Regions from separate parts of the Homo sapiens genome. Here regions 2, 3, 4, 5 and 6 are each linked to region 1. Evidence: fine-mapped expression QTL. A gene starts in region 1. Each other region holds a variant in brackets. All regions are shown on one strand. Distances are from middle to middle.

Region 1 (5,072 bases):
CTACTGCTCCTCCCCAGAGGCACTCAGTAACTCTCCTCTGTGCCGTAGTCACCTGAAATAAGATTGTCCCTCAGTCCCTGGAAGCCACACCCAGGGGCGCTTTGCAGGCCCTATGCAGGAGGGGCAGAATTCTGCAGCCCCGTTCACTGATTTACAGCTGTCTCAAAAGGGAGGAAAGAGGAGATTTGCACGTGAATAGTCACCCCCCTTCACACATCCACAGACACTGGCTTCCACAAACCTACCCTGGACGTCTCTCGAAGGTTTAACCTTTAAGAGAGAAACCACTTGAAATTCTTGGGACCCATGGGATTGCTTTTTCCCATTAAAACTCTGGGATCAAAATTTGTGCCTTGAAATTCAATATCCAATTTTAATCCAACCAGAATCAAATCCTGCAAATGTAAGCAAGGTTGCTCTCCCTGAGTGCCCGGGCAAGTTTCCTGACATAAAACTGGGGTGGGAGGTTGCAATGGGCAGACAGTGATGTTTAATATATACCCTCACTGGGGCCTGTGGACTCAGAATCCACTGCTTTTGGCATTCCTGAGTTCTACAAGCTTAAAAAAACAAAACCAGGTCACTTAGCTCAAGGAGTTCTGAGAACCAAAACAGACCTCAGGAATGGATTATCCTGCCCTAGGAGGCTCTGCTGGGGGAGGAGTCAGAAGGGAAGACGCGCTGAGGATAAACTGAACAGGAAGGAATTCTGGCTGAAATTCTATCAAAGCGGACTGCAAGATGTTTTCCCCAATACCAGGACACTATTCCAAAGTGACGTGAACACCAAGCCTCCATCACAGAAGCCGCTCCACTCTGTTCTTAGCCCCTTTTCCCTCCCAAGAACAACCTGATGTTCATGGCAAGCCAGAAACTTACCGTTGGAAGCCCCAGGCTTTACGCCTTGCCGTGAATCTCCAAGGTTTCTCCCAACAAGCGCATCCGTGCGGGACCACGACCCTCTTTCCGAGACCACTGCTTAAGTCAGAAGCACAAAAGTGGGTGCAGTGAGAGATACAAGTTCATTCCACCAGCACCAGCATCAAACCCAGCACCCAGCCCCAGTGCGCCCTGGCCCGCCTGTTGCAGGGGCCTCAGCGATAGCGGTCGGGAGGGCCCACAGGTTTCCAAACTGGCCCGGTAGTGACCCGCTTCTCCAGCTGCGGCGGGAGACCCGGGTCCCTGCCCGCCCGCCGCCGAGCCCCGCCCGCCCGAGCAGAGAGAAGTGAGCAGAATGCCACGCTCATTTACACACAAAATGATTTTGTGTCCCATTGCGCTCGCAGTTGTTCGGCTCTCTGGGGGTGATTAAACTGGCTGAGCTGCGGCAGCTTGAGACGATTTCACTAAATCGCTTCTTCTGAAGTCGCTTCTTTGCTAAGCTGTTATTTTAACCATAAAAGGTAAACAGAAGGCGCCTCTCGAGCTCCCCTCGGCTCCGCACTCAGGGCGCTGGCCCGGGGCGAAAGTCCTGGGGGCCTGCACAATTGTCCCAGGGGTGGCCCCGGAGAGGCAGGCGGGCCACCTGGTGCGCGCCAGCCTCCCCACCCCCCCCCTCCCGCCTCCGCCGCGGAGCCAGCCGGCCGGTGTGAACTTAGGGGCGACGGGAGAGGGCTTGGGCCAAGGCTGGAGGCGCCGCGGGGCGGGGTGGCCGCGGCACCCGAAGCGCGGGGCTGGGCTGGGAGGGGTTGCCGCGGAGGCGGGGCGGGGACAAAGTTAAATCAAGAGGCAGACACTTGGAGACCACAGATGGGAAGCTCGCCTAATTAAGGACGTAAAAGCGCTTTTGTTCTCAAAGTTTATTGTTGCCGGGATTAAAAAAAAATTAATTGAAACTAATGCTGTTATTCACTCGTGCAGTTAAATTCCTTCATGCACATTTGAGATACGGAGCGAAAACTTGAAGCTTATCTTTCTGCAGTCGCGGGTGGGGGCCGCCGGAAGACAGAAAGGCGCTGCAGAGGCGGGGGTCCGCCCCCGGGTGTGTTTGCGAGTGTGTGCCGGGTGCGCGCGTCCAGGTCAGGGGGTGCGGGCGGGCAGCGGGGAACCGGATCTGCAGGCGGCGATCCCTCCCATCGCGGCCCCTCTCCCAGCCCCAAACCCTGCGCGCCCGGGACCACCACCAGCGCGACAGCCCCTCCTGCCAGGTTTCGGACTCGTGGGGTGGGCGTCAGAGGACGCACATCTGTCCCACTGGAGACTTTCTCTGATTTTGGGCGCCAAGCCGGGACTTGTGCATCCCGAAGCCCCAGTTGCGTGAGCCCGTTTCTGACCCCGGAAACTCGCCAGCTCTGCAGGGCGCTCGGCCCAGAACAGGGGCCAGAGTGCGGGGACCTCCACAAGCGCGCGCGCGCGCGCGCGCACACACACACACACACACACACACACACACACACACCGCGCGGCAGGAAGCTCCGAGACCGCCCGCGTGGGGAGGGTCCACCCGCGGCCAGGACCAGCCCACGTGGGCAACCCCACTCTTGCACCAGGCCTTTGTGCTGGGCACCCCCGCGCCGCCAGCCCCCGCCGCCCAGCAGAGGGACAAAGCGGCCGCCCCCGCCCAGGTCCAGACCCTGGCCGGGCGACTTTCTCGGTATCGCAGCCACTTCGGGGCAGGGTTGCGCGGCTCTGAGCGGTGGCCGCCCGCGCTGAGCTTACCTCGGAGCCGGCAGATCGGGCTCGGGCGCAGCCCCCGCCCCACGCAGCTGCCGGTCTCGGGCGCCGGGCGCAGCTTCGCCGCCTATGCTCGCTGCGCGGGTCGCTCCGGTCTCGTCCTGGAGTTACTTTCTCTCTCGCCCCCAACCCTCCCCCCACCCACCCCTCCCGCCCCGGCCCCCGCTTCACGCGGCCCCTCGCGGCGCGGCGCGCCGGGGCCTCCCCTCCCCACCCTCCCCTCGCCTCCTCCCCTCTTCGCGGCCGCCGCCTCCGCCGCCGCCGCCTCCTCCTCGCGCCGCTCTCCGGCTGCCCTCCCGCCGCTCCCACCTCCTCTCCTCCCTCCTCTCTCTCCGGCGGCCTCCCTCGATTGCTGGAGAGAAAACCAGCCCCCCACTCCAGCCCCTAGCCAGCGCCTCGCCGCGGCCCAGCCCGGACGTAAAGGGCAGCGATCCGGCCCCAAATTACCCAGCGCGAACGGGCGCGCGCGGCGACTCCTGGCTCGGGGCTCGGCTGCGCCGCGGGGCAGAGGATTAGAGTCGCAATTAGCTCCGCGCGCCCGCGCCTGGCGACAAAAACGCGCCGTTTCCCCTCCTTTCGCCGGGCGATCCCCACCCGCCTCTCCCGAAGCCCGCGCCTTCCCGCCGGGGCCGCGGCCAGGACCCTCCCGGGAGCGGTGCGCCCAGGCCCCAGCGCCCTCCGCGGCCCAGCCCCCCGCCCCCCGCCGGCCGGCCACGCGGCGCCCGGGCCTCCTCCGGGCTCGGGGAGGGGGCGGGGGAGAGGCTGATTTTAATCATTGTCATTTCATCTGATGTAATATTTCCCCGGGCGCTTTCAGCTGGGCATAAATTTTCGGCTCCCAAATAAGTAACACAGGGCACGTTTCTCACATTTCTTGACTCCTCGGTTACAAAGAGGAGAGCAGCCGCCGCCGCGGCGCCCGGGGCTGGGGGCGGGACTTGGGAAGAAACTGGGCTGCCAGTCGGTCGGGGCTGGAGCGGAGCCGGGGGCCAGGCCGCCCCTCCCCCGCTCCCTGGCCGCCCTCCCAGGGTCTCTGCCCCGCTGCCCCTCTCCCGTGACGTCTGCGGACACGCGGTCGGCCGCCGCGGGGGAGGGACGCGCTGGGGCACCGGGCCGACCGCTCGCGGCTAGACGCGCCATTTCCTTTACGCGCGCGGCGCGATGGAGACGGCGGCAGCCAAGACTCCCCGCGGCCGAGGTCCGCGCCCCGGACGCCCCTCCCCAGTCTCCGCTTCGGCCGCCCCTTCCTCCTTTTCTCCCACTCCCACTCCTCCTCCCCTTCCTCTTCCTCCTGTTTCCTTTGCGCCCCGCCCGTGCCTCCTCCTCCTCCTCGGCGACCATTTCCCGGCTCCTAGGAAACGGAGCGCGCGACTGGCCGGCACTGCGCCCCCGCCTGGCTCCAGGGACGCCCGGGCCGGAGACCGGCTGGGACCGCGGGGCGGGTGCGCACGGGCCGGAACGGCGCCTGGGTCCCGACCGCCGGCTCCGGCCGGGCCTGGACGCCCCCTAGCGGCCGCACTCCCGGGGTGGGGGGCGCTCGGGGTCGGCCTGGAGCTGGGGTGAGGGGGACTCGGGGTGCCAGTGGGAGGAAGGTGAAGTGGGGGGGGCTTTCTCCCTCTACTAGAGGACCTCGCGCGCGTGGAGAGAGCGTCCAGACAGCGCTTCCGTAACTTCTTTACGCGGGAATCAGCCGAAACTTTCCTCCTAAGGGAAGGTTTTATTTATTTATTTATTTTCGAGTTCGAACTACAGGAAAAAGGGGGAAATTTTCTCATTAAAGTTACATCCCTGCAGTTAGTTCAATTATTTGATATATGCAGAAGATGTTGTAAATTTATAGATTTAAATAGCTTACAAAGATGCCGCAGGCCCCATCAGTTAATTTCCTTAATTTATGGATTTTGAGCTGCTCCTGGAACAGAAAGAAGCCCTGGAAGTAGGTCAGGGATCTGTGCAGGGGTTGGGAGGGGCTCCCGCGAGGCCCAAGGGCTGCCCACTCTGCTCCCTACGCCCCGGTACCTCCGGGCTTCCAGCTCCCAGCTTCGGCTCAGCAGCGCGCTCTCTGCGCGTTCGGCACGCTGGCCAGGCCCGGCCCGGCCCGAGAGGTCAGCCCAGCTTTGTGGCCGACTGTCCCAAGCACGACATAGGAACAGCAAAGCCCTCCATCAATGCACATCCCACTCAGCATTGAGGGACCAGACACAAATAGAAAGTGAAGCAAGTATTCAAATACTTTGATCTCCTGTATCCACCCTTAAATGCTGGCTAGAATCACAATCGGACGAGGTTGTGTGTGTGGGTGCCCCCAACTTCATGGACAGAAACGTCCTCCCCCGCCCCAGGCCTTTGTGGAGGGTGGAATGAGGGAAGGTGGAGCAGGCTTGTGTTGGAGGATGAGG
Region 2 (5,072 bases), 240 kb before region 1:
TCATCACAATTCTTCCAGCCTCCACCCATTACCTTATTCCAAAGCCACTTCTACAGCAGCACCCTACTTCTAGGTACCAGAATCTTTATTAGTTATCTATTTCTGCTGTGCTATAAAGGATTCAGCAGGTTTAGGTAGTCTGATTCTTCCACATTCCAAAGAAAGGTTTGGTCCTTTCCTGGCTACTGGGAGACAACCTCTAATCTCCTGGAATCTCCTGTCTGTTAACAATGTCTTTGTTTATCTGAGGCCTTGGGCCATGTAAGATAGTTCATGTTAACAATGTGATTGATGGCGGGGGCCTTGTACTACCCAGTATGATCTCAATCTCTGGAGGTGCTGGAGACTCGAGTCAGCCATGCAGGCAGTCAGCCATGCCTAGGTAACCAACCTTCAATAAAAGCCCTGGACAGAAAGGCTTCAGTGAGTTTCCCTGTTTGGTAATACTCTGTGGGAGCTGTCATTCATCATTGCTGGGAGAATTAAGTGCTGTCTACATGACTCCATGGTGAGAGAACAACTGGAAACTGATGCCTGGTCTCTCCTGATTCTTCCCTATGCATCTTTTTTCATTGATGATTTTAATCTGTATCTGCTCACTGTGATAAACTGTAACTGTGAGTGTAATGGCTCTGCTGAATTCTGCGAGTCCTTCTAGTGATCATTGAAGCTGAGAGTGGTGTTGGGAAATCCTTGAACACAGCTGCATAAAAAATTACCACAAACTTAGTGACTTAAAAGAAAACATGCATTTATTATCTCACAAGAGTCTGGGCACAGATTAACTGGGTCCTCTTCTTAGGGTCTCACAGGGCTGCCATCAAGGGATTAGCTTGACTGTGTTCTAATCTGGAGGCTCAACTGGGGAAGAAGGTGCTTTCAAGCTCACTCAGGTTGGTGATAGAACTCATTTCCTTGTGGTTGTGGGACTTAGAGTCCTGGCTTCTTGGTGGCTTTCAGCTCTTAGAGGTTGTCTTTAGCTTCTTGATAGATTGGCCTCCTATCCTGGCTGCTTATTTCTTCAGAACTATCTTGAGAGAGAGTGTTAGAGTGAGTTTGATAGCAAGATGGAGTCTTAATAGTATGTAATCTTGGGAGTGACATCCTATTGATTTTGCTGTATACAGTTGGTTAGAAGCAAGTCACAGCTTTGCTCACACTCAAGCAAACTATGTCCTCCTTCAAGGGGAGGAGTTTATTCAAGGATGTGAATACTCATCGTAGAGTGTGTTTACCACACAACTTCCCTATAAAGGGAAAGAGAGAAATGGGGGCAGTAATGAGAAGGGAAAGAAAGGCCAAAACTTTTTTTTTTTTTTTTTCTTTTTTTGGAGACAGGGAGTGGAGTGGAGTGGAGTGATGTGGTGCAATCACCACTCATTGCAGCCTCAAACTCCTGGGCTCAAGGGGTCCTCCCCCTTTAGCCTCCCGAGTAGCTGGGACTACAGGTGCATGCCACCATGTCCAGCTAATTTTTAATTTTTTTTTTTTTTTTGGTAGAGACAGCAGTCTCATTATGTTGCTCAGATAAGTCTTCAAGTCTTGGCCTCAGGTGATCCTCCTACCTTGGCCTCCCAAACTGCTGGGATTACAGGCATGAGCCACTGCACCTAGCCAAAACTTATTTTTTTTTTAACATGGGAAAAATTTGTGCTGATAGGAATGATTCACTAGAGAGGAAATCATGGATAAAATCCTGTTTTATGGGTCAGCCATTACAGTCTTTTAAATATTAAATGCAATTAAAACTCTTATTTTGTCTCTCATATATCACAAAATACATAATTTATGGGCCCCACTTTCCCCAAATATAAAATGTAGATGTTGACCAGGAGCGGTGACTCATACCTGTAATCCCAGCACTTTGGGAGGCCGAGGTGGGAGGATTGCTTGAGGCCAGGAGTTCCAGACCAGCATAGGCAACAAAGTGAGAACCTGTCTCTACAAAAAATAAAAAAAAATTCAGCTGAGCATGGTGGTGCATG[C/T]CATAGTCCTAGCTACTGAGGAGGCTGAGGTGGGAGGACCACTTGAGTCCCGGGAATTCAAGTCTGCAGTGAGTTATCATTGTGTCACTGCACTCCCGGCTGAGTGACCGAGAGAGACCCTATCTCAAAATATAAAATAAAATAAAAATCATGCTCACTGAAAGGGTTTCAGATAGACTTGGTATTTTTGGCTTCACTACTATTTTATTTGTAATTCTGGGATAGGCTCTGGGCCTCAGAACACCCTACAGTGGATATTGTTATGAAGACACACATGAAGATGTCCTGTCGATGGTGTGGCAATGAGTTTGTCTGAGATGGTGACACTGACGCACATTTTTCTGTCTCCCGGAATACATGTTTCTCAATCCTTAGCTTTTGAGTGGTTTTGCCTACAGAAAGGCCCCGGCGCAGTGCCCCCTGCTGGTGAGTGGCAGCCAGGCGCGTGCGTCATGTCAGTGATGGACACAGTGGGTCCCTTTGCTGACACGGACCTTGGGGGTGATGCTGAGCCTGCCAGGTTATTTCAGATCAGGTCATTAAAGCAACAGAAGGTCGACTCGATGTAAAACGAGCAGCTCCCAGTATTCTCTACATTTTTTAGACATGTGATGATTTGCTATAGCTCATTTTGGCTGATAAAATATGAACACTTCACAAAATATTTGTATTTCAGCCTCTGTCTTCATTCATTTAACAAGCCATTTTGCCCTAATTCCCAGGAGCTGTATTCTTCTTCCATTGGGAAACCTAACTTGAGCCTCGGCAGAGAAGATTTTAAACATGAAATAGGTTAGCAGTGTTAATTTAAAAAAAAATCAGAAAAGCATTTAAAACAAAAAAGCCCCTTTCTCTTTCACTTCAGTGAAATGAATTAGCATTCATTTGTGCAGGTTTCTCAATGGTGATGAGCATCTTAAAGAAAATTAATTAAAACTAAGAACAAGATTAGTGTTTAGATTATTATTTTAACCTTGGCCTCTGGTGAAGGTAGTAGTTTTGTAATGAATAATTATCCCCTTAATTTTGTTCCCGTCTAACTGCTTTGTATATATCTGGGGTGGGTATGTCATGACAGTGACATTTTTGGTAGCCTTTAATTCAGGAATGCAGTCCACACACTTCAGGATTTTAGTGTCTTAGGTTCACGGGCAGGTGGCTTCTCTACTTTGGCATTTCCACGAGGCAGGAAGGAAACCAGGAGAATGTGTATCCTCAAACCCAAGTGAACCAGGCATACCCAGAAGGAGGAAGAGCTCTGTTGAGTGAGCTGTGAGAATCAACCATTGTGGAGGTCATGGTTAACTTGTTGGGAGCAGTTTCTGTGGAAGGATGGGACAAAAGTCTGATTAGAATGGGTTTACAAGAGAATGGGCTTTTCCAGGTGCCCATCAGTGGTGGGCTGGATAAAGAAAATGAGGTGGCTCACGCCTGTAATCCCAGCACTTTGGGAGGCCGAGTCGGGTGGATCACGAGGTCAGGAGATCGAGACCATCCTGGCTAACACGGTGAAACCCTGTCTCTACTAAAAATACAAAAAAAAAAAAAAAAAAAAAATTAGCCGGGCTTAGTGATGGGCGCCTGTAGCCCCAGCTACTTGGGAGGCTGAGGCGGGAGAATGGTGTGAACCCGGGAGGCGGAGCTTGCAGTGAGCTGGGATCATGCCACCGCACTCCAGCCTGCACGACAGAGGGAGACTCCGTCTCAAAACAAAAAACAAAAAACAAACAAACAAAAAGAAAATGTGGTACATATACACCATGGAATACCATGCAGCATAAAAAAAATGATGATATCATGCCCTTTGCAGCAACATGGAGGCAGCTGGAGGACATTATCCTAAGCCAACTGACAAAGAAAGAGAAAACCAAATACTGCCTGTTCTCACTTATAAGTGGGAGCTAAGCATTTGGTACACATGGACATAAAGATGGGAAAAATAGACAATGCAAACTAATAGAGAGGGGAGAGAGGTGGTGAGGCAAGGGCTGAGAAACTACCTATTGGGTACCCTACTTACTACATGGATGACGGGACCATTCATACCTCAAACTGTAGCATCATGGAAGACTTGTAACAAACCTGCACGTGCACCCCTTGATTCTAAAATAAAAGCCTTGCTTATTTCTTTCTCTTTCCCACTTCTTCCGTTTCTTTCTCTTCCTGAACAAATCCTTTTAAAAGTCATTAGGTGGGACCAAGCAAGGTGGACATCCATACAGAGCAGCAGGGAAGCCCTACCATCCTGAAGCAGGTGAGGAGGGTATCCACATGGGAGGGGTGGGGATGGCCTAGCCTGGGCTGTCAGAGATAGCCAGGGTGAGGTTTGGTGGCTGATGCAGAGCATTGGAACCTGAGTCGGATAAGAAGGCCTCCCTGCTGAAGGCCGGCCCAGCTTGGAGCATCGGAGCATTGGAGTGTGGAAAGCATTTGTGTAGGATGACAGCCCAGTGTGGGGTGTCTGATCATGAGTGGGGTAAAGAAGTGCTCCGCATAAGAGGGCAGCCCTATGTGAGGCATCAGACATCTCCCAGGTGAGAGCATCCATGCAGCGGGTATCAGAATTCAAGCAAGAGGTCAGGCTCTGTGGCTCACGCCTGTAATCCCAGCACTTTGGGAGGCTGAGGCGGGTGGATCACTTGAGGTCAGGAGTTCGTGACCAGCCTGGCCAACATGGTGAAACCCTGTCTGTACTAAAAATACAAAAATTAGCTGGGAGTGGTGGCGGGCACCTGGAGTCCTAGCTACTCGGGAGGCTGAAGTGGGAGAATCACTTGAGCCTGGGAGGCAGAGGTTGCAGTGAGCCAAGATTGTGCCACTGCATTCCAGCCTGGGTGACAGAGTGAGAATCTACCTCAAAAAAAAAAAAAAATTCAAGCAAGGTGAGGCAGGCATCCACCTAGGAGCGCTGCCTGGCATGGGGTGTTGGAGTTCTACCATGGTGGGTGGCCTGGTATGCGGGGTGGGGGTGTTAGATCCTGGACAGAGTGAATATGGGGGTGGAAGTGCTACCTGGCATGGTGTGTCAAAATATGAGTGGCAGAAGGATGGCTGGGGGCTGGGCATGGGCATGGTGGCTTCCACCTG
Region 3 (5,072 bases), 58 kb before region 1:
TCCACCTGCCTTGATCTCCCAAAGTGCTGAGATTATAGGTGTGAGCCACCGTGCCCAGCCTGTGGGTTGTTTTTTAATATTGAGGTTGGTGTCTTCTGATATGCAGAAGTTGTAAATTTTAATGTAGTAGAATTCTCTTTGTCTTTTGTGGTTTATAGTTTTTATATCTTATTCAAAAAGAACTTTCTCTACCCCCAATGGCATAAAAATATTTTTTCTTTCTTTTTTCTTTAATTCCAACTTATTGAGGCATAATTTTTACAAAATAAAATGCACCCATGCATTTTGACAAATGTATACAACCATGTAACCACCCTCCACCCAAAAAAGACATAGAACGTTTCCACACCTATAGCTGCTTTCCTGCTCCTGCCTAGTAGATAACCTGCCTTCCTAGCCCCTGCTCTAGGCAGTGACCAATCTGCTTTTTGTCACTATTTCTATTTCATATCAACAGAATAGTACAGCACATACTCTTGTATCTGGCTTCTTTTGCCCGGCATCATGCTGCTTTTTTTTTTTTTTTTTTTAGTTCTAGGGTACATGTGCAGGTTTGTTACATGGTAAACCTGTACCATGTTTACCTACATGGTTTGCCACGGTGGTTTGCTGCACCCAGCATCATACTTTTGAGGCATCATTTTGTTTTGTTTTTTTGATTTTTGAGATGGAGTCTTGTTCTGTTGCCCAGGCTGGAGTGCAGTATTGTGATCTCAGCTCACTGCAACCTCTGCTTCCTGGGTTCAAGTAATTCTCCTGCCTCAGCCTCCCGAGTAGCTAAGATTACAGGTATGCACCACCATGCCTGGCTCATTTTTTTTGTTTGTTTTTTGTTTTTTTAGTAGAGATGGGGTTTTTGCCAAGTTGGCCAGGCTGGTCTCGAACTCCTGGCCTCAAGTGATCCGCCCACCCCGGCCTCCCAAAGTGCTGGGATTACAGGCATGAGCCACCTCTGCTGGCTGAGGCATCATTTTGAGAGATCACTTATGCTTTTGAGAATCAGCCATGCCATTGCACATACCAGCAGTTTATCCTCTTTTGTGCTGAATAGTGTTCTGTTGTATGGATACACCACAATTTGTGTTTTCACTTATCTGTCGTTTGGATTGTTTCCAGTTTTTGGTTTTTATGAGTAAAGCTGCTATGAACATTTGTGTACAAGTCTCGGTATGGGTATATGTTTTTCTTTCTCTTGGGTAAATATCTAAGTGTGGAATCTCTGGGTCATGTGATGAGTGTATTTTTTTTTTCTCCTGTTCAACTTTATTTTTATTTTTTTATTTCAATAGGTTTTGTGGGGAACAGGTGGTGTTTGGTTACATGCATAAGTTCTTTCGTGGTGATTTCTGAGATTTTGGTGCACCCATCACCCGAGCAGTGTACACTGTATTTAATGTATAGTATTTTATCCCTCACCCACTACCCTTTCCTCTGAGTCCCAAAAGTCCATTGTATCATTTTTATGCCTTTGCATCCTCATAGCTTAGCTCCCACTTATGAGTAAGAACATACAATGTTTGGTTTTCCATTCCGGAGTTATTTCACTTAGAATAACGGTCTCCAATTCCATCCAGGTTGCTGCCAATGCCATTATTTCATTCCTTTTTATGGCTGAGTAGCGTTCCATGGTATATATATATCACATTTTCTTTATCGAGTGTACGTTTAATATTATAACAACTGCTAAACTGTTTGCAAAGGAGCTGAGCGATTTTACACTTCCTCCAGCCAGGGATTCGAGCTCTAGCTCCTCCACCAGAGCTCAGAATATCTGTCTTTTTCGTTTTAGCCCATTTTAGTAGGGATGCTTATTGATATCTTATTGTAGTTTTAATTAATATTTTCCTAATGACTAATCATGTGGAGCATTTTTCATGTGCTTCTTAGCCCGTGAAATGTCTGTTCAAATCTTTCGTCCATTTTAAAATTCAGTTGTCTTCTTCTTATTGAATCTTTTGTAAGATATTATACAAGTCTTTCTGTAAGAGCTGTGTATTGACAATATTGTCTTATACCCTTTGTCTTGACTTTATTTATTTATTTATTTAGACAGGGCCTCTCTCTGTCACGCAGGCTGGAGTGCAGTGGTGTGATCCTGGCTCCTCACTGCAACCTCCACCCTCCAAGGCTCAAACAATTCTCTCACCTCACCCCCCCCAAGTAGCTGGGATGACAGACATGCACCACCATGCCTGGGTAATTTTTTGCATTTTTAGTAGAGACAGAGTCTTACCATGTTGCCCATGCCGGTCTTAAATCCTGACTTCAAGACTTTATTTTTAAAGTGCCTTTCAGAAAGCAGTTTTTTTTATTTTGATGAAGGAAAAAAATTGTCAAGTTTTTCCTTTAAGATTAGTGCTTTTATGTCTTGTTTAAGACATCTTTGCCTATCCCAAGCTCACAAAGATTGTCTCCTCTATTCACTTATAGAAGTTTCTTAATGTTGTATTTTGCATTTAAGTCTACTACTCTATTTCAAGTTAATTTTTGTGTAAGGTGAGACATAAAGGTTGAGGTTCACTTTTGCCTATGGATGTCCAAGTGTCTGGGACTATTTTCTATGAAGACTTTCATTTTCTTGATGCTAAATAACCTTAGCACCTGTGTCAAAAATCAAGTAACCTGGCCGGGCGTGATCCTCCCACCTCAGCCCCCTGAGTAGCTGAGACCACAGGCACACACCACCATGCCTGGCTAATATTTTGTATTTTTGGTAGCGATGGGGTCTTGCCATGTTGTTCAAAACTATATATATATATATATATATATATATATATAT[ATTTATATT/T]TATATTTATATAGAGAGATATATATCTCAGGGGGCTGAGGCGGAAGGATCGCTTGAGCCTGGGGGCGGAGGATTCAGTGAGCCAAGATCGCACCACTGCACTCCAGCCTGGGTGAAAGAGCAAGACCCTGTTTATATATACATATGGAAAGATCAACAATTTGACTTCTTATTTTCCAATTTGGATGCCTTCTGTTTCTTTCTCTTGTCTGATTACTCTGGCTAGGACTTCCAGTACTATGTTGAATAGGAGTGGTGAAAAAAGGCATCCTTGTGTTGTTTCAGTTCTTAGGGGAAAGGCTTTTACCTTTTCTCCATTCATTATGATGTTAGCTGTGGTTTTGTCATATATGGCCTTTATTATATTGAGCTATATTCCTTCTATACTTAGTTTATTGAGTGTTTTTATCAAATGCTTTTTCTGTATCTATTGAGATGATCATATGGGTTTTTTTGTCCCTCATTCTGTTGATATGATGTATCACATTTTTTGATTTGTGTATGTTGAATGATCCTTGCATCCCTGGGATTAATTTTCATGTATTTGCATAGTTTTCAAAGTTCCACTTGATCATGGTGTTTTTTGTTTGTTTGTTTTCGTTTTGTTTTTGTTTTTGTTTTTTAAGACGAAGTCTAGCTCTGTCACCCAGACTGGAGTTCAGTGACGCAATCTCAGCTCACTGCAACCTCCGCCTCCCCGGTTCAAGCGATTCTCCTGCCTCAGCCTGCCAAGTAGCTGGGACTACAGGTGCCTACTACCATGCCCGGCTAATTTTTCATGGTGTATTTTTTTGTTTGTTTGTTTGTTTAAGATAGAGTGTCACTCTGTCACCCAGGCTGGAGTGCAATGGTGCGATCTCAGCTTACTGCAACCTCTGCCTCCTGGATTCAAGCGATTCTGCCTCAGCCTCCCGAGTAGCTGGGATTACAGGGGCCCGCTACCACGCCCAGCTAATTTTTGTATTTTTAGTAGAGATGGGGGGGTTTCACCATCTTGGCCAGGCTGGTCTTGAACTCCTGACCTCAGGTGATCCTCCCACCTCAGCCTCCCAAAGTGCTGAGATTACAGGCATGAGCCACTGCACCCGGCCCTATTTTTTTTTTTTTCATGTGCTGCTGGATTTGGTTTGCTAGTATTTTGTTCAGAATTTTTGCAATCGTGTTCATCAGGGATATTGGCCTGTAGTTTTCTTTTGTTGTTGTGTCTTTGTCTGGTTTTGGTATCAAGGTAATTTTGGTCTCATAGAATGAGTAGGGAGAATTCCTTACTCTTCAATTTTTTTGATTAGTTTGAGGAGAATTGATATTAGTCCTTCTTTGGAATCTTGGTAGAATTTGGCAGTGAAGCCATCCTGTCTTGGACTTTTAATTATTGATTCAATCTCATTACTCATTATTGGCCTGTTCAGGTTTTCTGTTGCTTCCTGATTCCATCTTGGTAGGTAGTACGTGTCCTGGATTTATCCATTTACTCTAGGTTTTCTAGTTTGTTAGTGTGTAGACGTTCATCATAGTCTCTCACGATCTTTTGTATTTCTGTAGTATGAGTTGTAATGTCTCCTTTTTTATTTTTTATTTTGTTTACTTGGGCCTTCTCTCTTTTTTTCCTGTTTAGTCTAGCAAGTGGTTTATCAATTTTGTTTATCTTTTCAAAAAACCAACTTTTCATTTATTTATCCTTTGTAATTTTTAAGTCTCTATTTCATTTAGTTCTGCTCTGATTTTTATTATTTATTTTCTTCTGTTAATTCTGGGTTTGGTTTGTTCTTGATTTTCTAGTTCCTTGAAGTACATCATTAAATTATTTATTTTAAATTTCTCTACTTTTTGATGTAGGCATTTATTGCTATAAAATTCTCTCTTAGCACTGTTTTTGCTATATCTCAAAGGTTTTGATATGTTCTGTTTTGATTTTCATTTATTTCATAAATTTTTTAAATCTCCTCTTTATTTCTTTCTTGACCCAATGGTCATTCAAGAGTATGTCATTTAATTTCCATGTATTTGTACAGTTTTCAAAGTTTCTCTTGTTATTGATTTCTAGTTTTATTTCATTGTGATCTGAGAAGATACTTGATATAATTTTAATCTTTAAAAATTTATTGAGACTTGTTTTGTGTTCTAACATATGGTCTATCCTGGAGAATGTTTCGTGTACTGATGAGAAGACTGTGTATTCTGCAGCTGTTGGATGAAATGTTCTATAAATTTCTGTTATGTCCATTTGGTCTAATGTGCAGTTTAAATCCAATTTTTTTTCTTAATTTTCTATCTAGATGATCAGT
Region 4 (5,072 bases), 23 kb before region 1:
ACCTGGGATCTGTGAGTATCTTAGGTTATGTGGCAAAGGGGTTTAAGATTGCCAATGGAATTAAGGTGAATTAGTAGACCTTAAAATAGGGAGATTATCTGCAGGGTGGAGGGTGGGCAATGGAATCACTAGAGTCCAGAAAAACAAGGGTGAGGGGATCTAAAGATGCTACACTTCTGGTTTTGGGGATGAAGGAAGGGACCACAAGCTACAGAATGAAGGCAGCCTCTAGAAGCTGGAAAGGACAAGGAAAGATTCTCCCCTAGAGCTCCAGAAAGGAGAGCAGCTCTGTTGACACCTTGATTTTAGCCCAGTGTGACCCATGTCAGACTTCTGACATCTGGAACTGTAAGATGAAAATATATCATCTTAAAATCAGTGTTGGGCTAGGCATGGTGGCTCACACCTGTTATCCCAGCACTTTGAGAGGCCAAGGTGGGAGGATCGCTTGAGTCCAGGAGTTCAAGACCAGCCTGGGCATCATAGGGAGACCTGTCTCTACAAAAAGAAAAAGAAAAAAAAATAGTATTTTTCTAAGCCACATTAGTGGTAACTTGTCATAGCCACAAGAGGAAACCAATACACTGATCTCTGTTCTTAATCCAGGAGCACAGGCTCTGGAGCCAGTTGAGGCTGCTTTTTGGCTCTTCCTTAGGGAGAGAGCTTGCACCTTCTTTTTCTGTGTAAATGAAACTATTAAATATTGTTTCTTCCTGGGGAGGGTGGGAAGTGGGTGGTGTTAGATGTCAGGGTTTGGAGAGCTGGTGATTCATGGGACACTCACGACTCAGAGCCTGGCCTCCAGTAACCAGGCTGATTGTAGACACTCAGTAGATATTTGTGGAAGGATAAATGTATTTCATCAACTGATGTTCCATAATCGATTTCATCTCTCCTGGTTTTAGGACACTAAGGGGCCCCCTTCCTTTCTTTGCCAATAGTAAATACAATTTGAGAATCTGTGCATACAGGGGTGCTTTTGTTTTTGTTTTGAAATTAGTTTTCTGGCTGGGTGCCGTGGTTCACACCTGTAATCTCAGCACTTTGGGAAGCCAAGGAGGGTAGATCACTTGAGGTCAGGAGTTCAAGACCAGCCTGTCCAACATGGTGAAACCCCATCTGTACTAAAAACACAAAAATTCATGCTCACTTCAGCAGCACATATACTAAAAACACAAAAATTAACTAGGCGTGGTTGTGGGCGCCTGTAATCCCAGCTACTCGGGAGGCTGAGGCAGGAGAATCACTTGAACCTGGGAGGTGGAGGTTGCAGTGAGCCAAGATCACACCAATGCACTCCAGCCTGGGTGGCAGAGCAAGACTCCATCTCAAAAATAAATAAATAAATAAATAAATAAATAAATAAATAAATAAATAAAATAATTAGTCTTCTATTTCTTCAAAGCAAGAGCCTCGCCAGGCTGCAAGGCTGGTGCTCTCCACACATGTAGTGTGTATGGTAGTCAGCTGCCTTCTGTGCAGGGCTGCTCACTCACCCGGCAGCTGGGCACTCCTTGGCACAGGAGCCCCCCACGTGGCTAGCCAGGCTGGGGCTGGAAGGTGGGAGTGGAGAGGAGGCAAACTAGAGGCTGTGTGGGAAGGTGCTTTGATGAATTCCCTCCCTGGGCTGGGCTTCTACACGGGTTCCTCCACCTGGGCATGGGAACTGGGGGAGGCTAAAGGGAGGGAGAAGGAGGAGTGCCAGTGGTGGTGCCGGAAGCCTCTCCCTGATGCAAGAGAAGCCTTGAGGCCAGTTCAGCAACTCAGAGCGGTGCTGGCCAGGGCGAGAGCATCGAAACCTCCCTCCCTCCCTCCTGATGCGCGTTCAGGATCTGCAGTCCGGAGGCTGCACACCACAACCTATGCAGGGCAGTGTGGGTTTCCCCAGACGTCTGGGGAGGTGGGAGAGCCTGGGCCTTGAGAGGGCAGGGAACTGAGGAAGCAAAAAAGCAGCTGCAGCCTTCTGCAGCCCGCTCTCCAGGTGGCACCCAAGCCCACCTCTGTGCTCCTGGGAGCTTGGTGCCCCTAAAACCCTCAAGGTTGCAACTCAGAGAGGATTGGGAAGCAAAGCCAGCAGGAGAACAAAGGATGCTTTGC[C/T]GGAAAGGGAGGCACCTTCCACGAAGGCCTCCGGGGCCTGGGGAAGTGACTCACTGGGCCCGGGGATGGACCCACCCATGGGGGCTCCGCGGGCCCACAATAGACCCATAGGATAGGAAAGGCACTGTCAGCCTCCGGCCTCTGGCGGGCGCCTCCCAGCCCACCCCCGCGAGATCTGGTCTGCGTCCAGCCCGGGGCCCCTGGGGATAGGCCCTGTTCTCGTTAGGCTCTGCCAGTCGGGACCGCCACCGCCGCTGCTGCCACCTGGGGCTGTGGGCGCGGCCCCTTCCGCCAGCCCTCCCTCCCCTTGGCCCTGCGGGGACCCGGGCTCCCCAGTTCTCGGCAGAGCCACACTACTCCTCTGCCAGAGCGAGGCCATCGATGTCACCCGAAGGTGGCGTCAGGCTCTGTCCCGAGGCTCCCCGGAGGCCTGTGATGGGGACTTGGAGAGAGCCCTCGTTGCGAGCCCCGGCTTCCCGGGCAGTTGCACAACCTCCCCCAATTATGCTCCGTGCAGTGTGTGGCAACCGGGCGAGAATTCCAGGGCCTTGTACCTACTCGTACCAATCTGCCTTCCCGCTGTTTGGCTGCAGGGCCAGGCGTGGCTCTGTGGGCCCGGGGAAATGGGGGTGTGTCCGCGTCCAGGAGGGCGTGGCCCGCGTCAGCCCCGGGAGCAGCAGCCCGGCCCTGCTGGTGCAATCGGCTCGCCCCAAACCGCAGCTTCCTCGGGGGCCCTGAACCGGGTCCAGGACACAGAAAAGGGAGCTCTGGTGACATCCTAGACACGGGCTTTGAGCAGCAGGCCTGGCCCAGCTACGGCTGGTGACGCCGTCCAGCCAGGGATGCGCGGCCTGGGTTCTCCCGCGGGCAGGACGGGAGGCCTCCCGGGCCCCAGCGTGGCTTGGGCGTCCCTGCCCCTCCCAGGCTCTGCTTTTTAAGACTTTGGCCTGGTTTGTGATTTCTGTGTTAAGAAGGATCCTAGGAGGAGGCCCTGAAGACCTAGCTCTTATTCCACGGCCATGGCTCCGGGTCCAGGAACAGCATTGTCCTGTGGGGCCTGGGCGCTGTCGGGACTGGCTGTTCTGTGTAATGGAAATAAAGACAAAACCCCAAATGCAGCTGACCCCTAACCCCTCTCCTTTGTGTGTCCCCGGGAGTGTGCCTGCCTCTTTCTCTGGGTCTCTCATTAGAATTTCACAGAAGCTTCCTTTGCTATGGAGACGCTAGTCTTGAGGCCTGAGAGGTGGTTCTCTCTACATGCAAATCAATGCATTTGGGGTAATCCATGTTCAGTGTCATGACGAAGTGGAAAACTGCAATGTGGTCTCTCTTCCTGTTAAATTTACAGAGCTTCAAGTACACAATTGAAAGTAAACAATTCCTGGCTGGGCGCAATGGCTCACACCTGTAATCCCAGCATTTTGGGAGGCCAAGGTGGGAGGATCACTTGAGGCCAGGAGTTCAAGACCAGCCTGGCCAACAAAGCAAAACCCCGCCTCTACTAAAAATACAGTAATTAGCTGGGCGTGGTGGTGCACACCTGTAATCCCAGCTACTCGGGAGACTGAGGCACAAGAATCGCTTGAACCCAGGAGGCAGAGGTTGCAGTAAGCCAAGACTGCACCACTGCACTCCAGCCTGGGCAACGGAGTGAGACCCTGTCTCACAAAAAAAAAAAAAAAGGAGAAGAAAAAAAGTGAACAATTCCTGTGCATAAACAAATGTCTGCTCCAAGCCTCATGAGCTATCTTGCCCTCCCAAGCACCTGCAGTGCTTGGCATATGCTGGCCACCAATAAGTGGTGCTCTTGGGTGGTTGTGAAGATAAGGATCTTTGCAGGGAAGCAGGGACCCTTTAAAAATCAACATCCAAAGCCTCAACAGATACATCAGCGCCCCTTTCCAAATCATGACTTTTCCTCAAAAAGCAAAAACTCTACTCAACATATCCTTCCACTGGGGGTGGAGATAAAAACACAGAAAGTTCTCTTTCCCTGAGGGTAAACAGCTACCAACAGTCAGTCATGCCTGGATGCACAACCTCAGGGGTGGGCCCCTCCTGGATGCACAACCTCAGGGGTGGGCCCCTCCCCAGGAACGAGCCCCCAACTCTGCCTGCAGTTCCTAGGTCTGCAGAGGTCACCATGGGCCTGGCAGGGCTCTGCTTGTCTAGCTTTGGGGCTTGCAGGAAGAGAGCTCCTGAACCAGATCCAGGGATTAGCCTGGGATGTGGCGGGGTAGGCTTCTCTGGGGCTGGGGTTTCCCTTCCAATGAAAGCTCACAGAGAAATGTCCCTGGGCTTACAGAGGCCATGGCTGCGAGAACTCGCTGGTTGTGAGATCCAGAAAGAGCAGAGACGCGCTCTTCTTTTCTGACTTTCAACCTTCCCTGGGGTTGTGTTCCATTTGGGTCACCTTAGAAAACTCTGGTGCTTCTAAGAGAACATCAGCGCTAGTCTTGGTGCTGGCAGGAAGCTGCCCTTAGCTGTCACCAACACTTTTTTCTTTCTGTTAGTCCACAAAGCATTACCTTACCTCACCGGTCCTCCAGAGAACATCGGGGCTGCCTAGAATGTGGTGACAGGAGTGAACTCTTAATGGAAAGGGGTTCTGGAGGGAATGTTTCTGTGCCTCTCTGCCCTAGTTGGTGAATTTAGCAGTTTAACCTAAATACAGTTGTTCCTGGATAGACCTTCCTCCAAGCAGGTGCTCTAGACCATCTTTTGTCTCGGGCTTTATGTTGGACGTTAGAGCTTTATCTTTGTGATGCCTTTGTAGGTTTCTCTGGATACTGACAAGAAACTTCATTTGATCTAATGAGAAACTTCTCACTAATAAAGGCAGGAGCTGCTTTTGACACATATGCATTAATATCATCTTTCTATTCTTACCATTTTTTTTTCCTGTTTTTGAGAAGGAGTCTCACTCTGTCACCCAGGCTGGAGTGCAGTGGTGAGACTTCGGCTCACTGCAACCT
Region 5 (5,072 bases), 87 kb before region 1:
ACAACAGGCGAGTTTTTGTATTTTTAGTAGAGACGGGGTTTCACCAAGTTGGCCAGGCTGGTCTTGAACATCTGACCTCAGGTGATCCATCCACTTCAGACTCCCAAAGTGCTGCGATTACAGGCATGAGTCACTGCACCTGGCTCGGATCGCTATTATTTAAATAAATAAATTTAAAAAAGGCAATAAGTGCTGGCAAGGATGTGGAGAAAAGAACACTGGTGCACTGTTGGTGGGAATGTAAATTGGTGCAGCCATCATGGAAACCAGTGTGAAGGTTACTGGAACAAATAAAAACAGAACTACTATATGATCCAGCAATGCTGAGTATCTCAAAAAGATACTTACACTCTCATGTCCATTGCAGCACAATTCACAATAGCCAAGATATGGAAACAACCTAACTGTCCATTGATGGATGAATGAATAAAGAAAATGTGGTGTATACACGATGGAATACAATTCAGCCTTAAAAAAGGAGATCCTGGCCGGGTGCGGAGGCTCATGCCTATAATCCCAGCACTTTGGGAGGCCAAGGCGGGCGGATCATGAGGTCAAGAGATCGAGACCATCCTGGCCAACATGGGAAACCCCGTCTCTATTAAAAATACAAAAATTAGCTCGGTGTGGTGGCGTGCGCCTGTAGTCCCAGCTACTTGGGAGGCTGAGGCAGGAGAATCACTTGAACCCAGGAGGTGGAGGTTGCAATGAGCTGAGATCACACCACTGCACTCCAGCCTGGCGTCAGAGCAAGACTCCGTCTCAAAAGCAATAGTCCCAGCTACTTGGGAAGCTGAGGATGGAGGATTGATTGAGCCCAGGAGGTTGAGGCTGCAATGAGCTGTGATTGTGCCACTGCACTCCAGCCTGGGTGACAAAAAAAGACCCTGGCTCTAAATAAATAAATAAATAAATAAAGGGAATGGGAGAATCTTTGGGAGGTGATGGATATATTTATGGCTTTGATAGTGGTGATGGTTTCATGGCTGTGTATAGTATCCCATCAAGTTGTATGCATCAGTATGTACAGCTTTTTATATGTCAATCATAGATCCATAAAGTGTTTTTTTTTTTTTAAAGACAAACTACTCAATTTTTTTTTTAGGGGCAAAGAATATGAACAGGCAATTCACAGAAGAGGTATGAAAAAGGACTTGTAAAATGTATTACCAAAAAAAAAAGTTTGACCCTACCAAATCTTAAGGGAAATACAAATTAAGCAACACTTGTCACCCATCACAAGGGCAGCAATTTAAAAGTCCGATAGGTACTAGCAGGCCTGTAAGGGCGCTGCTCCCAGAGGATGCTGGTGCCCCGTGTATCAGTACAGCTGCACTTTGGATGCCCTCAGAGCTAGAAATGTGCATACCGTGAAACCCAGCAATTTCCCTTCTGTGTTATCTACCCTCGAGAAATGTATATGTGCACAAAGAAAGCGTCTCTGAAGCAGCATTGGAAATAGCAGAAGCCTAAATGCCCATCAATATCAAAATGCCTCAGTAGATAGAAGCAGTTCACAGCATGGGGCTTTATACAAAAAATTTTTTTAAGTGACTTGGATCTGTGTGTATGCAAATAGATCTTTAAGAGGTATTGTTGAGTGAAAAAAAAATGCGTAGAACAGTATATATGTAAAAAAAGTAACCAAACTCATCAATAACATTTCGCATGCCTCGGCCGGGCACAGTGGCTCACGCCTGTAATCTGAGCACTTTGGGTGGCCGAGGTGGGCAGATCTCTTGAGGCCAGGAGTTCAAGACCAGCCTGGCCAACATGATGAAATCCCGTCTCTACTAAAAATACAAAAATTAGCTGGGCATGGTGGCGGGTGCCTGTCGTCCTAGCTAGTCAGGAGTCGGAGGCGGGAGAATCGCTTGAACCTGGGAGGTGGAGCTTGCAGTGAGCCGAGATCGTACCACTGCACCCCAGCCTGGGAGACAGAGCGAGACTCCGTCTCAAAAATAAAAATAAAAATAAAAAAATTCACATGCCATAGTTTTAATGAAGTCCAATGTATGTTGCAAAAACAGGAAACATTTCTGAAAAAAAAATTCCAAAGTCAGTGCTTCAGTGCTTACCTGTTGGGGAGCTGAAGTGGGTAGCCATGGATTTTTAGAGGTCCAAGGAGACTTTAGCGTCTCTGTAATGTTACAGGGTTTTTTGGAGGCAAACGGGTTAAAGTTCTCCATGTAAAATATAGGTTAGTTTTTGAAAGAGGGTTGGCTGGGTAAAGAGACTGCATCTAGGGGCTCTGGGCGTAATGCAAAGTGAAAAGCTGTGAGAATGGCTGGGAAGGAATGTTAGCGAAAGGTACTTTAAACAAACACCCTCTGGGCTTGCCCAGAGGGGAAACGGAGGAGAGTGAAAAACCCAGGAAGCCTGGAGGAGCAGGCGGGGAAGGGGAAAAGCCAAATTTGGGCCAGGCATTGGAGATTGCTTTGTCCTTGGTGTG[C/TGC]CTGACTTTTCGGCAGGCTGGGAACACGCGGAAATGCATTTCCTGGTGCTTAAGTTTCCAGCTGGGACAACAGAGGTTCTTCCCACAACCCCTCCTCCTCCCTTTAGCTAAGATCTGTTTACCCTAGTGCTCAGACAGGAAGTCTTTATTATTTTTGCATAGGGACCTAGAATGAAAAATCAGTGGTCCTGCCGCTGACTCCACTGAAGGCACCATCCGGAGGAAGTGGAGTGTGGTCCTGGGCATGCCTGCTCTGCCCAGGGCTGTGCAGCAGGGCAGGAGGTCTGTACCTTCCCACGGAAGCTGCGGGTCCTCAGGCTTACAGGGTTGATCTGCGATTGCAGCCGCCTGGCCAAGCCTCAGCCCTGGGCTCAGCATCCCTGCCCAGAGTTAGGCCTGTGCAAGATAACAGAGTGAAAGCAAACCTGTCTCCAAGGCTCCATGGCATGTGGGCTCTGGAGTCTGATCTGACTTCACATCCCGGCTCAGCCCTGAGGCCAGCATGTGTATCTTTGTGCAGCCTCAAATTTGCCATTGCAGTTGCTGGAGACTAAGCAAAATAATGTATATTGTAGAGCTCTCAGCTCCATGCATGGCATTCAGTAAGCAATGGTGCTAGTTAGTGATAATGATGCCAATAAAATACATCTCCTCTTGTCTTTTCAAGACCTTTATCAGAACAGCAAACCAGCTGGGTGTGGTGACTCACATCTGTAATCCCAGTGCTTTGGGAGGTCAAGGTGGGAGGATCGCTTGAGGCCAGGAGTTCCAGACCTGCCTGGGCAACATAGCGGAATCCTGTCTCAACAAAAAATTAAAAAAATTAGCAAGAGGTAGTGATGTGCACCTGTAGTCCTAACAGCTTAGGAGGCTGAAGTGGGAGGTTCTCTTGAGCCCAGGAGTTGGAGGCTGCAGTGAGCTGTGATTATACCACTATACTCCAGCCTGGGTGACACAGTGAGACCTCATCTCTTTGAGAGAGACAGAGAGAGAGAAGCAAACCATTTTATAATATGAATGTGGCTTCGAATAAACAAAATAATTTACCTTTAGCGTGATGTACGAGAAAAGCTCTAATTTAATTCAGTAACTCTCCCATCCTGGGTTTGTTGAAGTTTTATTGTTAATCTGTTTCCTAAATCTTTGTAAAGGTTTAGGAGGGAGACTTCAATGAACTTGGCTTGCCAATGGCCAGTAAAGAAGTTGTTTCTAGGGAGGCAGAGGCAGGAGGATAGCTTGAGCCCAGGAGTTTGAGACCTACCTGGGCAATATAGCAAGACCCTCTTCTCAAAAAATAAATAAATAAATAAATAGGCCGGGCGCGCTGGCTCACTCCTGTAATCCCAGCACTTTGGGAGGCCGAGGCAGGCGGATCACGAGATCACGAGGTCAGAAGATCGAGACCATCCTGGCTAACACGGTGAAACCCCGTTTCTACTAAAAATACAAAAAATTAGCTGAACGTGGTGGCAGGCGCCTGTAGTCCCAGCTACTCCGGAGGCTGAGGCAGGAGAATGGCATGAACCCGGGAGGCGGAGCTTGCAGTGAGCTGAGATCGTACCACTGCACTCCAGCCTGGGTGACAGAGTAAGACTCCATCTCAAAAAATAAAAATAAAAAATAAAAAATAAAAATAAATACATAAATAAAACAAAATAAAAGAAGTTGTCTCCTCCTCCCTAACAGAGGGGTGTTGAGAGAAGTGGCTCCTCCACAGCCATGTTAGCTGGTCCAGGCTGGAGCCTGGCGAAGCTGAAGCGGATGTCAGCAGGCATCTCTTCCCCAGGGCAAGGCCAGGACCAGGATGATGGCAGTGAAGCACTTGCCTGAGGGCAGGCTTTAAGGAGGTGCCCAATAACCCAGTAATAAATAGATACTATTTTAATGCAATATTTTAAAAATAAAAACTAATGCAAAAAAAAATCTAAGATGAACAAAATTTCACCATACTAGACCATACTTCTTGCTGCTCAGGCTATCTTCCTGACCCTGTCAGTTCTCAGGTTTCTAACATTACCTTTCCTGAGTTCTCTAGAGCTGGTCTCTCTCTGCCTAGGTCTACAGGAAGGGAGCTGGGAGGTAGGTTTTGTGGGGATGAGCTGGGAAAACTGTCTTTTTTTTTTTTTTTTTTTTTTGAGACGGAGTCTTACTCTGTCAGCCAGGCTGGAGTGCAGTGGTGTGATCTCAGCTCACTGCAACCTCCGCCTCCCAGGCTCAAATGATTTTCCTGCCTCAGCCTCCTGAGTAGCTGAGATTACAGGTGCACATCACCATGCCCAGCTAATTTTTTTGTATTTTTAGTAGAGACGGGGTTTCACCATGTGGGCCAAGCTGGTCTCAAACTGCTGACTTCAAACGATCCTCCTGCCTCTGCCTCCCAAAGTGCTGGGATTACAGGTGTGAGCTACCACTCCCAGCCCTTGGAAAGTCTTCTGGACACAATCTTGTGTGTGTGTGTGTGTGTGTGTGTGTGTGTGTGTGTGTGCACATGCGTTTTTTTATTTTTATTTTTTGATAACCTTTTTGAGACAATAAGAGATTTAAACAAAAGAAAACGTAGAAACAAGCGCTAGGAATACGAGGGTGTCTAGTAGAATAAACAGATTTGAAAATTGTTTTA
Region 6 (5,072 bases), 38 kb before region 1:
TTTCTTTTTTCAAAATTGCTTTGGCCAAGCTAGGTCTTGTATCTTTTCCTATAAATTTTATTATTTTATTTTATTTATTTATTTTTTTGAGACAAAGTCTCACTGCAGCATCCAGGCTGGAGTTCAGTGGTGCGATCTCGGCTTACCACAACCTCTACTTCCTGGGTTCAAACAATTCTCCTGCCTCAGCCTCCCGAGTAGCTGGGACTACAGGCATGCACCACCATGCCCAGCTAATTTTTGTATTTTTAGTAGAGACGGGGTTTCGCCATGTTGGCCAGGCTGGTCTCAAACTCCTGACCTCAAGTGATCTGCCTGCCTCGGCCTCCCAAAGTGCTGGAATTACAGGCATGAGCCATCGTGCCCGGCCTAAATTTTAGCATAAGCTTGTTATGTCTACAAAATTCTTGCTGAGAATTTGGTAAGAATTGCATTAAACCTATAGATCATTTAGAGAGACTTGACATTTTTACTATGTTAAGTCTTTTGATCCATGAATTTAGTATGTCTCTCCAACTATTTAGGTTTTCTTTTATTTCTTTCATTACCATTTTGTAATTTTCATCATACAGATTCTATACATGTTTTGTTAGGTTTACAGCTAAGGATTTGATTTTCTTTGGAGCAGTTTTAAGTGGTATTGTGTTTTTTATTTTGATTTCCACTTGTTTGCTGTCAGTATATAGAAATGCAATTGATTTTGTATGTTAATCTTGTATCCTGCAACCTTACTGAACTCACTGAACTTTTTAATTAGTTCTAGGAGTTTTTTGTAGATTCCTTGGGATTTTCCTTGTAGACAACATGTCATCTGCAAACAGAGACAGTTTTACTTTTTTCCATTCCAATTTGTATGCTTCTTTCTTTTCCTTGCCTTATTGCAGTGGCTAGAACTTCCAATATTATGTTCAATAAAAATGATAAGAGTGAACATTCTTATCTTGTTTCTGACCATAGGGGAAACCATGCAGTCTTTTGCTATGAAGTATGATGTAAGCTTTAGGTTTTTTGTAGATGCCCTTTATGAGGTTGAAGAAGTGTCCTTCAATTCCTAGCGTACCAAGAGTTGTTATCATGAATGGGTGCTGAATTTTTCAAATGCTTTGTCAAATGCATCAGTTGACATAATCATATGATTTTCTTCTTTAGCCTATTTATCTGGTGGATGACATTGATTGATTTTTGAATAGTGAACCAACCTTGCATACCTGTAAAAAATTCCACTTGGTTGTTGTGTATTATTCTTTTTATACATTGTTGAATTCAATTGCTAAAATTTTGTCGAGAATGTCTCTAAGTTCATAAGACATATTAGTCCGTAGTTTTCTTTTTTTTTCTCTTTTGAGACAGAGTCTCGCTCTGTTGCCCAGGCTGGAGTGTGGTGGTATGATCTCGGCTCACTGCAACCTCTGCCTCCTGGGCTCAAGCAATTCTCCTGCCTCAGCCTCCTGAGTAGCTGGGGTTACAGGCACAAGGCACCACACCTGGCTGATTTTTGTATTTTTTGTAGACACAGGGTTTCACCATGTTGGCCAGGCTAGTCTCAAACTCCCTACCTCAGGTGATCCGCCCACCTCAGCCTCCCACAATGCTGCGATTACAGGTGTGAGCAACCGCTCCCAGCCTTGTAGTTTTCTTTTTTGTCAAAATTTGGTATCAGGGTAATTCTGGCCTCAATAAAATGAGTTTGGAAGTGTTCACTCCTCTTCTGCTTTCTGAAAGACATTGTGCAAAATTGATGTTCATGAATCTTTTGAAACATTCATTTTTGAATGTTTGGTACAAGTCTCTAATGAAACATTCTGGTCATAGAGATTCCTTTTTCAGGAGTTTTATAATTATAAATTCAATTTCTTTAACAGTTATAGAATAATTCAGGTTATCTATTTCATCTTGGCCCAGTTTTGTGGTTTTTGAGGAATAACCTTATTTCTTCTAAGTTGTTGAATTTATGAGTGTAAAGTTATTTATAGTATCCCATTAGTATCTATTTAATGGCTGCAGGATCGATTGCAATATCATCCGTTTCAGTCTTGATATTGATGATGTGTGTCTTCTCCCTTTTTCTCTCTGTCAATCTTGCAAGAGTTTTATATATTTTGTTGATCTTTATGAAGAGCCAGATTTTGGTTTAATTTTCTCTATT[GT/T]TTTTTTAATTTTGTTGATTTCTGCTCTTGTGTTTATTGTTTCCTTCCTTCTACTTGCTTTGGGATTAATTTGCTCTTCTTTTTCTACGTTATTGAGAAGGAAGCTTAAATGATTGATTTGAGATTTTTTCCTTTTTTCTAACATAAGACTTAAATGTTCCAACCTCCTTCTGTTACCATCTTCTTTCTGTTTAGGGAGCTTCCTCTAAGGATAGATCCACTAACAACAATTCTCTTAGTTTTCCTTTGTGTGCAAATGACTTTATTTTCCCTTTATTCCTGAAGGATGATTTCACTGGATAGAGGATTTGCAGTGGGAGGTTCTTTTCTTTCAGCAGTTAAAAAATGTTGGGCTGGCCAGGCACAGTGGCTCATGCCTGTAATCCCAGGACTTTGGGAGGCCAAGGCAGGAGGATCTCCTGAGCCCAGGAGTTCGAGACCAGCCTGGGCAATATTGTTAGACCCTGTCTCCATAAAAACCTTAAAAAATTAGCAAAGCCTGGTGGCGTGCACCTGTAGTCCCAGCTACTTGGGAGGCTGAGGTCGGAGGATCACTTGATCCCAGAAGGCAGAGGCTGCAGTAAGCAAGATTGCACAACTGCACTCCAGCCTGGGTGACAAAGTGAGACCCTGTCTCAAAAAAAAAAAAAAAAAAAAAAAGTTGGGCCACTTCTTTCTGGCCTCCGTGGTTTCCGGTGGGAAATTCATTATCATTTGAATTGATATTCATTTATAGGGAACACATTGTTTGCCTGGCTAGTTTTAAGATTTTTGTCTTTGTTTTTAGTTTTCAGAATTTGATTATGATATATCTTGGGGTGGATTTCTTTTCGTATTTCTTTTAATACTTTTTTAGTCCACACTCTCTTTTCTCATTCTGGGATTTGGATTATATACAAAAACATTATATCTTTTGTTACTGCCCCACAGAACACTGAAGCTCTTTTTCCTTTTTTCAGTCTGTTTTCTTTCTGTTGTTTAGTTGGAGTACATCCTATTGATCTGTTGCAAGTTTATCGTTTCTATCTTGTGTCATCTCCTTTATACTATTGAGTCCATCTAGTACATTTTTAAAAATTTCAGTTATTGTATTTTTCAGTTTTATAAGATCCATTTGGTTCTTTGTTTAAATTACTGCTCTTTCTTTGCCGAGAATTTTAAACATTTTTTTTATTATAAGTGTTTTTTTCATTATAAGTGTTTGTTGAGGCATTTTTATGAGGCTGCTTTAAAATTCTTGTCAGGTAATTTCAACATCTGATTTATCTGGGTTTTGGAGGCAGTTTGTCTTTTCTCATTCGAACTGTGGTTCTTTGGGATGATGAGTGTTTTGCAATTGTATTCTGGACACTGGATATTATGTTAGCACACGCTTGATCCTATTTAAATCTGTTTTAGGGCTGCATGCGTTGTCTCACACCTATAATCCCAGAACTTTGGGAGGCTGAGGTGGGAGGATTACTTGAGCCCAGGAGTTTGAGACCAACCTGGGCAACATAGCGAGACCCTGTCTCTACAAATAATAATATGACAAAAATTAGCCAAGCATGGTGGTGTGCACCTGTGGTCTCAGCTACTCGGGAGGCTGAGGCAGGAGGATTACTTGAGCTAAGGGGGTTGAGGCTGCAGTGGGCTGTGATTGCACCACTGCACTGCAGCCTGATGACAGAACAAGTCTGCCTTTTTTAAAAAATTGTTTTTTAATATGTTTTAGCAGGCAGTCACTCTATTTAGCTTTAGTATATAGGTTCTGACATATATTTGTAGGCATTAGTTCCAGGGACAGTTTGGTCATCATCAGAACACTTTCTTTCTGGTTTTTTTTTTTTTTTTTTAGATGGAGTTTCACTCTTGTTGCCCAGGCTGGAGTGCAATGACGCAATCTCAGCTCACTGCAATCTCTGTCTCCCAGGTTCAAGCGATCCTCCTGCCTCAGCCTCCCAAGTAGCTGGGATTACAGTCATGCAGCACCACGCCTGGCTAATTTTGTATTTTTAGTAGAGACGGGGTTTCTCCATGTTGGTCAGGCTGGTCTTGAACTCCCGACCTCAGGTGATCCACCCACCTCAGCCTCCCAAAGTGCTGGGATTACAGGCGTGAGCCACCACGCCCGGCCCATCAGAACACTTTCAATGTGATTTGGAACTGCTTGATTCTTCTAGCACTGCTGGGGCTACTTCTAGCCCTGCCCCATCTCTGTCGATGTCATCGTTTAAGGCAGAAGGCACTTCCCTGAGCTGCTTGGTGTTTGCGGGCTACATTCTTCTGCTAAATGGTTTAGAGGGCCTGGGTCTTCTTATGCCACTGCATGGAGGGCAGGTAGACACAGAGCTAAGCTGACGCTGCCCCTGCAGGCTGTGATTGCAGGTGGGTCAGGCTGCCTGCCAGTGCTTCCGCTGTGGAGGGGGCATGGGACTCCCCACTAGGCGTCTTTCGGGTTTTCCTTAAGTTATTCTTTGTCCATTTGTCCAGAGAGAGCAAGATTTTGTTATCTTTTTTTTTTTAAGTGCTTAATGGAATTTCTAGGTTGTGGGAATCTTCAGCACCTGGTCTAGGGTATATGGAAGATTAAAAGAAGAAGACACGGCCAAGCATGGTGGCTCACGCCTGTAATTTCAGTACTTTGAGAGGCTGAGGCAGGTGGGTCACTTGAGGTTGGGGTTCGAGACCAGTCTGGCCAACAAGGTGAAACCCCGTCTCTACTAAAAATAAAAAGAAATTAGCCGGGTATGGTGGCATGTGCCTGTAATCTCAGCTACTCTGGAGGCTGAGGCAGGAGAATCGATTGCTTGAGCCCAGGAGGTGGAGGTTGCGGTGAGCCTAGATCACACCACTGCACTCCTGCTTGGGTAACAGAGTGAGACCCTGTCTCAAAAAAAGAAAAAGAAAAAAAAAGTTTCAGGGAACTCACTGCATTATTTTTCC

Evidence for each region.
Region 2: its variant is fine-mapped to the expression of KCTD15 in whole blood (TOPMed, PIP above 0.99).
Region 3: its variant is fine-mapped to the expression of KCTD15 in whole blood (INTERVAL, PIP 0.96).
Region 4: its variant is fine-mapped to the expression of KCTD15 in whole blood (INTERVAL, PIP above 0.99).
Region 5: its variant is fine-mapped to the expression of KCTD15 in whole blood (TOPMed, PIP above 0.99).
Region 6: its variant is fine-mapped to the expression of KCTD15 in whole blood (TOPMed, PIP 0.97).

The regions. Positions count from the first base shown.
Region 1 is chr19:33,794,574-33,799,645 of GRCh38, reverse strand. KCTD15 (potassium channel tetramerization domain containing 15) reads right to left here and starts at 2,776. Exons shown (of 7, transcript NM_001129994.2): 1 at 2,659-2,776; 2 at 880-978. RefSeq lists a silencer at 4,078-4,197 and an enhancer at 4,843-5,072.
Region 2 is chr19:34,039,454-34,044,525 of GRCh38, reverse strand. No RefSeq gene overlaps it. Among named protein-coding and RNA genes, the nearest start is that of LSM14A, 130 kb to the left of the region's middle. The variant C/T (reference allele first, on the strand shown) is at 1,986.
Region 3 is chr19:33,852,749-33,857,820 of GRCh38, reverse strand. No RefSeq gene overlaps it. Among named protein-coding and RNA genes, the nearest start is that of SUNO1, 50 kb to the left of the region's middle. The variant ATTTATATT/T (reference allele first, on the strand shown) is at 2,780.
Region 4 is chr19:33,817,773-33,822,844 of GRCh38, reverse strand. No RefSeq gene overlaps it. Among named protein-coding and RNA genes, the nearest start is that of KCTD15, 23 kb to the right of the region's middle. RefSeq lists enhancers at 1,517-2,511, 2,390-2,589. The variant C/T (reference allele first, on the strand shown) is at 2,098.
Region 5 is chr19:33,881,716-33,886,787 of GRCh38, reverse strand. No RefSeq gene overlaps it. Among named protein-coding and RNA genes, the nearest start is that of SUNO1, 21 kb to the left of the region's middle. The variant C/TGC (reference allele first, on the strand shown) is at 2,453.
Region 6 is chr19:33,832,236-33,837,307 of GRCh38, reverse strand. No RefSeq gene overlaps it. Among named protein-coding and RNA genes, the nearest start is that of KCTD15, 38 kb to the right of the region's middle. The variant GT/T (reference allele first, on the strand shown) is at 2,147.